2 linked regions of the Homo sapiens genome follow. The protein of the gene in region 2 purifies or fractionates together with the protein of the main gene of each other region. This does not show direct contact. Each region holds a gene or a part of one and is shown on either strand. Other genes may lie near its edges.

What was found. Proteins that work in one complex are often made in the same cells at the same time.
Region 1: the proteins of SUCLG1 (region 2) and POGLUT3 fractionate together in Homo sapiens (co-fractionation; one large-scale study listed by BioGRID). This does not show direct contact.

The regions. Positions count from the first base shown.
Region 1 is NC_000011.10:108,477,855-108,481,505, reverse strand, and holds part of POGLUT3 (protein O-glucosyltransferase 3 isoform 1 precursor), read left to right. Parts: intron 1-129; coding exon 130-326; exon of another isoform or gene 327-346; intron 347-1,176; exon of another isoform or gene 1,177-1,243; intron 1,244-2,010; coding exon 2,011-2,205; intron 2,206-2,846; exon of another isoform or gene 2,847-3,042; intron 3,043-3,651. UniProt on the Homo sapiens protein: Protein glucosyltransferase that catalyzes the transfer of glucose from UDP-glucose to a serine residue within the consensus sequence peptide C-X-N-T-X-G-S-F-X-C. Can also catalyze the transfer of xylose from UDP-xylose but less efficiently.
Region 2 is NC_000002.12:84,438,651-84,442,301, forward strand, and holds part of SUCLG1 (succinate--CoA ligase [ADP/GDP-forming] subunit alpha, mitochondrial precursor), read right to left. Parts: intron 2,810-3,651; coding exon 2,597-2,809; intron 2,455-2,596; coding exon 2,397-2,454; intron 1-2,396. UniProt on the Homo sapiens protein: Succinyl-CoA synthetase functions in the citric acid cycle (TCA), coupling the hydrolysis of succinyl-CoA to the synthesis of either ATP or GTP and thus represents the only step of substrate-level phosphorylation in the TCA.

The DNA of each region.
Region 1 (3,651 bases), on a different chromosome or scaffold from region 2:
CTTTAGAAGATGAGTTGATAAAAGAGCTTTAGCATCTTAAATGACAATGGTAGATTAAAGAGGATTATGCTTGCCATATTAAAATGTCAAATTCATAATCCTAATTTTTTTATGGCTTCAAACTTGTAGGGCCTTCCTGGATCAATAAAACAGAGAGAGCTTTCTTCAGAGGTAGAGACAGCCGAGAGGAGAGGCTCCAGTTGGTACAGCTGTCCAAAGAAAATCCTCAGCTACTAGATGCAGGAATTACAGGATATTTCTTTTTCCAAGAGAAAGAAAAGGAGCTTGGAAAAGCCAAGTTGATGGGTTTCTTTGATTTCTTTAAGGTATGCATTTGAGTCTTCTTCTATGGATATGAAGCGATAAAATTGTATTAAAAGTCTACCAAAATAGGTGGGCTTCAGCAAATTTCACCTGGCTTGTGAACTGACACACATGTTCACACTTTCTTATTAGATATCAGGAATTACAAAACCCATTGTGGTTTCCTTCTTTCATTGTTAAGTTTACCAAATAGCTCAGAACTGTACTTAATTCTCAAAATATAGTACAAGGATTAACCTGGGATTTTGGTATATTTATGTCTCGTTTTTCTTTCTTTTTTTTTTTTGTATTTGCTTTCATAAACTGGGAATATAAATACCTTTTACATAAAGTGATCTCAAATGTCTTTTATAAATAGAAAAAGCATAAATTCCATATATGTAAAGTGGGAGTTGGGATTAGGGTTCAAGGCCTGCTTCTAATCCTGCCTCTGCCACCAACTATGGGACCTTCCTGTCTTGGTGCCTTGGTCTTTAAACCCGTGTGATGCCTGCCTACTCCTTCAGAGCATTATCACGAGGCCCAGAGGAGAGATGTGAACAATGTGACAAAACCTGATGGGCTCAAAAACTCCCTTGTACCAATTATTTAAGAAAAATTTATTTACCAAATCTGGGAGTGTGTCCTCTTCATCCCAGAGTGATACAATGAGTAGAACAGGGGATTTGGACTCAGAGAATGAGGTTTATACATTTCTCTGAATACCAGTTTTCTCATTTGTAAAAACAAAAAGAAGGGGTTAATAATACCTGCTTCAGATTATTCTAATTGAATGAGGTTTAATGCCTATGAAAACTACATTTGAAATGGAAAACAAAGTATATTAACCCAACAAATATGCAGACAGCTTACCTACTATGTTGCCAGCATTGCCCAAGTCCTTAAATGTCTCCAGGTTTCTATCTCCTCAGCTCTAAAACTGTAAAATAGAGACAATGCCTGCCTGTTTCATAGACTGCGTATAAGGAACAAATGAAATAATGAATAAATGAAAGTGTTCATTGTTATCAGTATTGAGCTTTAAGAATTTTGAAAATAGTTTTCCTGGCTGGGCGTAGTGGTTCACGCCTGTAATCCCAGCACTTTGGGAGGCTGAGGCGGGCGAATCACCTGAGGTCAGGAGTTTGAGGCCAGCCTGGCCAACATGGGGAAACCCTGTCTCTACTAAAAATAGGAAAAAGTTAGCTGGCTGCAGTGGTGGGTGCCTGTAATCCCAGCTACTCAGGAGGCTGAGGCACCAGAATTGTATGAACCCAGGAGGTGGAGGTTGCAGTGAGCCAAGATCACGCCGCTACACTCCAGCCTGGGTGACAGAGCAATACACTGTCTCAAAAAAATAATAATAATAATTAATTAAAACTTAAAAAGAAAATAGTTTTCCTACCTTGTTACAGAAATCTGGATTCCATTATTACAGAGACATGATTGAAATAGGTCTTCACTCCTATTTCCAAAAATTTAGCACCTTACCTTTAAACAATGTATTTCTTAAAATTAATCTGAGAAATGCTGCTTGTGATTTTTATACAAAGAGAAGATGTAAGTTATAAAATAAAACTTTTAAACACAAAAAAGTTGGAAAATGGAAAATAATTCCTCTGTAGTTGGTATTACAGTGTTGATGAGGAGCAGAAGTGAAGCAAATGACTACTGAAAGTTTGTTTATGTTTGTTTTTCATCTTCCAGTACAAGTATCAAGTAAATGTGGATGGGACCGTGGCTGCTTACAGATATCCATATCTCATGCTGGGCGACAGTCTGGTTTTAAAGCAGGACTCGCCATATTATGAACATTTCTACATGGCACTAGAACCTTGGAAGCATTATGTTCCAATTAAAAGAAATCTGAGTGATTTATTAGAGAAAGTTAAATGGGCTAAGGTATGCGTCCAGCAATTTTTATTTCTTTAAGCAATAACAAATTCATCAGTGTTAGATGAGTTCCATCACAATACAATTTGATTTGACATAATGGAATGAAAAGAAATATTATTTTCTGAAATTGCTGTTCCCTTGAAATATCTAAAGAATCAGCATCAGAATCATTTTGCATACCCTCTATCAACATTTTTGAAGATTTTCAGAAGATTTGAAGTCCAGCCTTATATAAAATACAGATTTTCTAAATGCTATGTTTACACATACAAACAAGAATATACAAAATGCAAATTACTGACTGAAAGACCAGAGTTAAGGTGCTTTATGAACAAGAAAATATTTCAGGCAATTACAGTACTCTTTTCTTATCCCCAGTTAGAAAAAAGGCACAAATTCTTAATGAATGCGTGTTATACAACGCAAGCATCACGTTTCCTATAAAATAGGAATTCCTTTTTTAAAAGGAAAAGTATTAAAAAGCTGTTGCGTTTTATTATAAAGCTATAAAAATGTACCCTTCCATTATGAGACTTTATACTAAGATTCTAAGAAACAATATATGGTTATAGAAATAATTGGGCGCCTGAGGCAGAATCACTTTTGTGACCCTTCATAAGAGCCTCAGTTGCTTGCAAATGGCTTACCTGCGGGCAGCATTGTAGAAGATTAACTGTTTTCCAAAAGTATAATTAGGAACGCTGACTATTTCTGGTACTGAATGAACAGCCTGTGGGTACTAATGACTGAATTTTTCGGTTACAAAAGCAATACAGTCTTTTATAGCTACCATTTTATAACACAACTTTTTGACGTTGACTGCGTATTTGCATGGAGCTTTTAAAAGATGTTGTAACGTGAAAACGGATTCATTCTCCTGTTATGCAGAGAGGAAATAGGCTGGTGGGACAGATGCGGAAGCTGAAGAGTACTTCCTGGGTGGCCAGGAAGGTACCAAGATGGTCACAATAGGGGCTGCATGTGGGTTGTTGCACTGTGGGGAGAAGGAGTGGCTTCCTAGTACTGTGGAAGAGGGGCCAAACATGTGATCGTTTCTCTTTAACGGAGATGTCTAGGAAAATACTCTGTCTCTTCCTGTAGCCTCATTCTTTCATTTATTTATTTATTAGTTTATTTATTTATTTATTTATTTATTTTTGAGACAGAGTTTCACTCTGTCGCCCAGGCTGGAATGCAGTGGCACGATCTCCACTCACTGCAACCTCTGCCTCCCGGGTTCAAGGAATTTCGTGCCTCAGCCTCCTGAGTAGCTGGGATTACAGGTACCCGCCACCACACCCAGCTAATTTTTGTATTTTTAGTAGAGATGGGGTTTCACCATGTTGGCCAGACTGATCTCGAACTCTTGACCTTAAGTGATCTTCTAGCTTTGGGCCCCCAAAGTACTGGGATTACAGGTGTGAGCCACCATGTCCGGCCCCTGTAGCCTCA
Region 2 (3,651 bases):
TTTCTCTCCTCACCCCCTCAAAAATCTTGTAGTGTTGAAAGTGAAGCCAGCTGGACTTCCTGGGTTGAGTGGGGACTTGGAGAAATTTTCTGTCTTACAAGAGGATTATAAAATGCACCAATCAGCACTCTGTAGCTAGGATTGTAAAACGCACCAATCAGCGCTCTGTAGCTAGCTAGAAGTTTGTAAAATGCACTAACCAGTGCTCTATAAAAACCCACCAATCAGCGCTCTGTAGCTAGAGGTTTGTAAAATGGACCAATCAGCAGGACACGGGCAGGGGACAAATAAGGGAATAAAAGCTGGCCACTCCAGTCAGCAGCTGCAACCCACTCAGGTCCTGTTCCATGCCATGGAAGGTTTGCTCTTTCACTCTTCACAATAAATCTTGCTGCTGCTCACTCTTCAGGTCCATGCCACCTTTAAGAGCTGTAACACTCACTGCGAAGGTCCGCGGCTTCATTGAAGTCAGCGAGACCAAGAACCCACTGGAAGGAACCAACTCTGGACACAGTGTCACATATTTTCTTCTTTTTTTTAAAAAAAAAAAAAAAGTCCTTTTTCAAAGGAATTAAAAGCAGTCTCCCAGACGACTGTCTCATCAATGGGTTATGACCATTCACAAAGGCAAGGTCTAAAGGACTTCCCTGAACTTCTCTTGATTTTCATTTTTTAGGTTTATGCTCACCTTAGAAAGCAGAGCAGTGATCAGAAAGGCAACTCAGCACAGAGCATTCCTTCCATGCTCACCTTAAGACCACAGCCTTCAAAACAGACCCAAGAATATAAGAAATATTCAAATATGTACAAGAGCATCAGTGATACATGGATCTGGCCCCACTGGAACTCAGATGGCCTATGGAGCTCCCTGAAATCTCTCTTGTAAATGAAATTATCAAGTACTGCCACTGGCAGCAGGGCTGACAGCTCCAAGAGACATTGGTAATAAAGAAAAATCATGATCTTTAACCCAATTCTGTAAACTGCACAGCCGACACCCACTGTGACAATTAATTACCCTTATTAGTAGCCATGGTTTATAGATAGAGAAAAATATGGTCAATCATCTTTCATGACTGAAAAACAGTATAGTTTAGAGAAATTTTGGTGTAAAGCCTAAACACAAGCCTAATGTGGCTAACTTTGAAATGTTACTTTGGCTATTTCCTCAAGGAACTAACCAAGTAGCAGGGCAATTTTCCTGACAGGCCATCTGAGTTCCCTTTCTGATCACTGCCCTGCTTTCTAAGGTGCCTACAAACCTAAAACATTTTGAGAAAGTTTGTGATATCTAAAAGAACAAGGTAATTATTGAGCAGGTATGTGAATGGCCTTATAAGCACATGAAAAGGTGCTCTACATTATTAGTCATCAGGGACACTCAAAACCACAAGAGATACCATTTTACTCTCAGTAGAATGGCTACATTTAAAAAGGCTAATAGCCGGGCATGGTAGCTCACGCCTGTAATCCCAGCACTTTGAGAGGCCGAGGCCAGCAGATCACCTGAGGTCGGGAGTTCGAGGCCAGCCTGACCAACATGGAGAAACCCGTCTCTACTAAAAATACAAAATTAGCTGGGCGTGGTGGCGCATGCCTGTAATCCCAGCTACTCGGGAGGCTAAGGCAGGAGAATCACTTGAACCTGGGAGGCGGAGGTGGGGGTAAGCCGAGATCGAGCCATTGCACTCCAGCCTGGGCGACAGAGCAAAACTCTGTCTCAAAAAAATGAAGACTAACAATACCAAATCTTTGTGAAGATATGGAGCAAGTGGAACTCTCCTACATTAATGGTGAAAATATAAAATGATATAGCCACTTTGCAGAACTATTTGGCAGTTTCTTATAAAGTTAAATATACTTGACTTATGTTCATATGAACATGACTTAGCAATTCCATTCCTACACATTTTGCCCAAGAGAAACGAAAATGTTTCCACAAAAAGACCTGTACACAAATGTTGACCTAAGCCTTGTTTGTAAGGCTCAAACATGAAAACAACCCAAATGTTCATTAATGGGAGAATGAATAAACAAACTGTGGTATAATTATACAACAGAATACTCCTTAGCAATAACTAAGTTATAACAGTTAATGAAATTAACTACTGATATATGCAAACACATGGAGTAATCCACAGAGTGCTGAGCAGAAAAAAATCTTTAAACTCCCACCACCAAAAAAATCTTCACTGATTCTGCAGAATTGTAACGGCTTCTCAAATAAACTCATTATATTCAAGATACAGAATTGATAGACTACAAAACTTCCCTGGTAAATTCTACTCAAGTCAAATTAATTAAACTTGATTTGCAAAGTCAAAAATTCTTTGTGAGTTTTGAGGGTTTAAGGCAAATAACGTTTTAATCTATAAGAATGTAACAAACAAACTCACCAATCCTTCCTTTTTTGTGAATATGGCCAGGCATGATGCCAATTTTACATTCTCCAGGCTGAAAGTAATCATAGTTTTCAGAAATGTTAAAAAAAAAAGTCACTCACAGGTCATACACACAAATACACTCGCATTCACTCAAAGCTGTTTAGCCTTGTGAGAGGCTTAATCTGAGTTTCTTTTTGTTTTTTTGCACTCACATTGATGACTCCAGGGCAGTTGGGCCCAATTAGCCTTGTCTTTTCCTGGCGCAGCAGTTTGTGCTTGACTCGTACCATGTCCTGCTGGGGAATTCCTTCAGTGATACACACAACCAAGGGAATTTCTGCCTCAATAGCTTCATTAATGGCAGCAGCAGCAAAAGGCGGAGGAACATAAATGACAGAAGCCGTTGCTCCTGTCTGTTCTTTGGCCTGAAACATTAACGACGAAGCACCTTATTATTTGTTAAATCATAAACATTGTAAAATAAATTCAATACCATCATTTTAATAATGTCTTGGGGTAAGAAAAGGACACTACCCAGAGACATAGCATTCTTCCCATTCTCAAATTTGCTACACTGTCAGAGTAGAACAGAATCAAGCATAGCCCTTTCTCAGCCCATTTGAATGCCACTGTGAATTGAAAGCTTCTGTGACATCTCACTCTCTATGGCATGTCAGTAAATCTGAAAGCAGCCTGACAGTGAACAGAGTCAAAGAATGCCAACATATCATCCACAAATGATGCCGGGGGTTAAAAATAATTTTTTAAAACTCTGTTCAAGATGATAACAGAGGGGGAGACACAAAAAACATTAAAACTAGTATGGAATCAAAAAAAGTCACATCATGGGGATGTAGGTACTTTAATGAAAAGTACCTACATTACATAGTTTTCTACCTCTAAAGTCTACAAATACTGCCAGAAGCTATACTGTGACAACAGCAAATATTGTGCTGGGACGTCATATGGATGAAAGGTACCAACCCTACTCATTCAAAAAGCCCTTTGTAAGAGCAGAACGGGTGAAAAATAAACAATATCTGTCAAAAAACTTATAGAATATTCCAAATGTCACAACTATTTGTGTCACTATAAATTATAAATGGATTGCTTAGCAAGAAGAACTTTCTTTAAAAAAAAAAAAAAAGCAAAAAGAGGCTCATGACAAAAGAAAAGTCAACCTAGAGGAATTGTAAAAAAACATCTCCTCTCTATATTTTGAGGTTATAAAATCAGCCATAATAGAATTTAAGGCAGGAAGGACTTT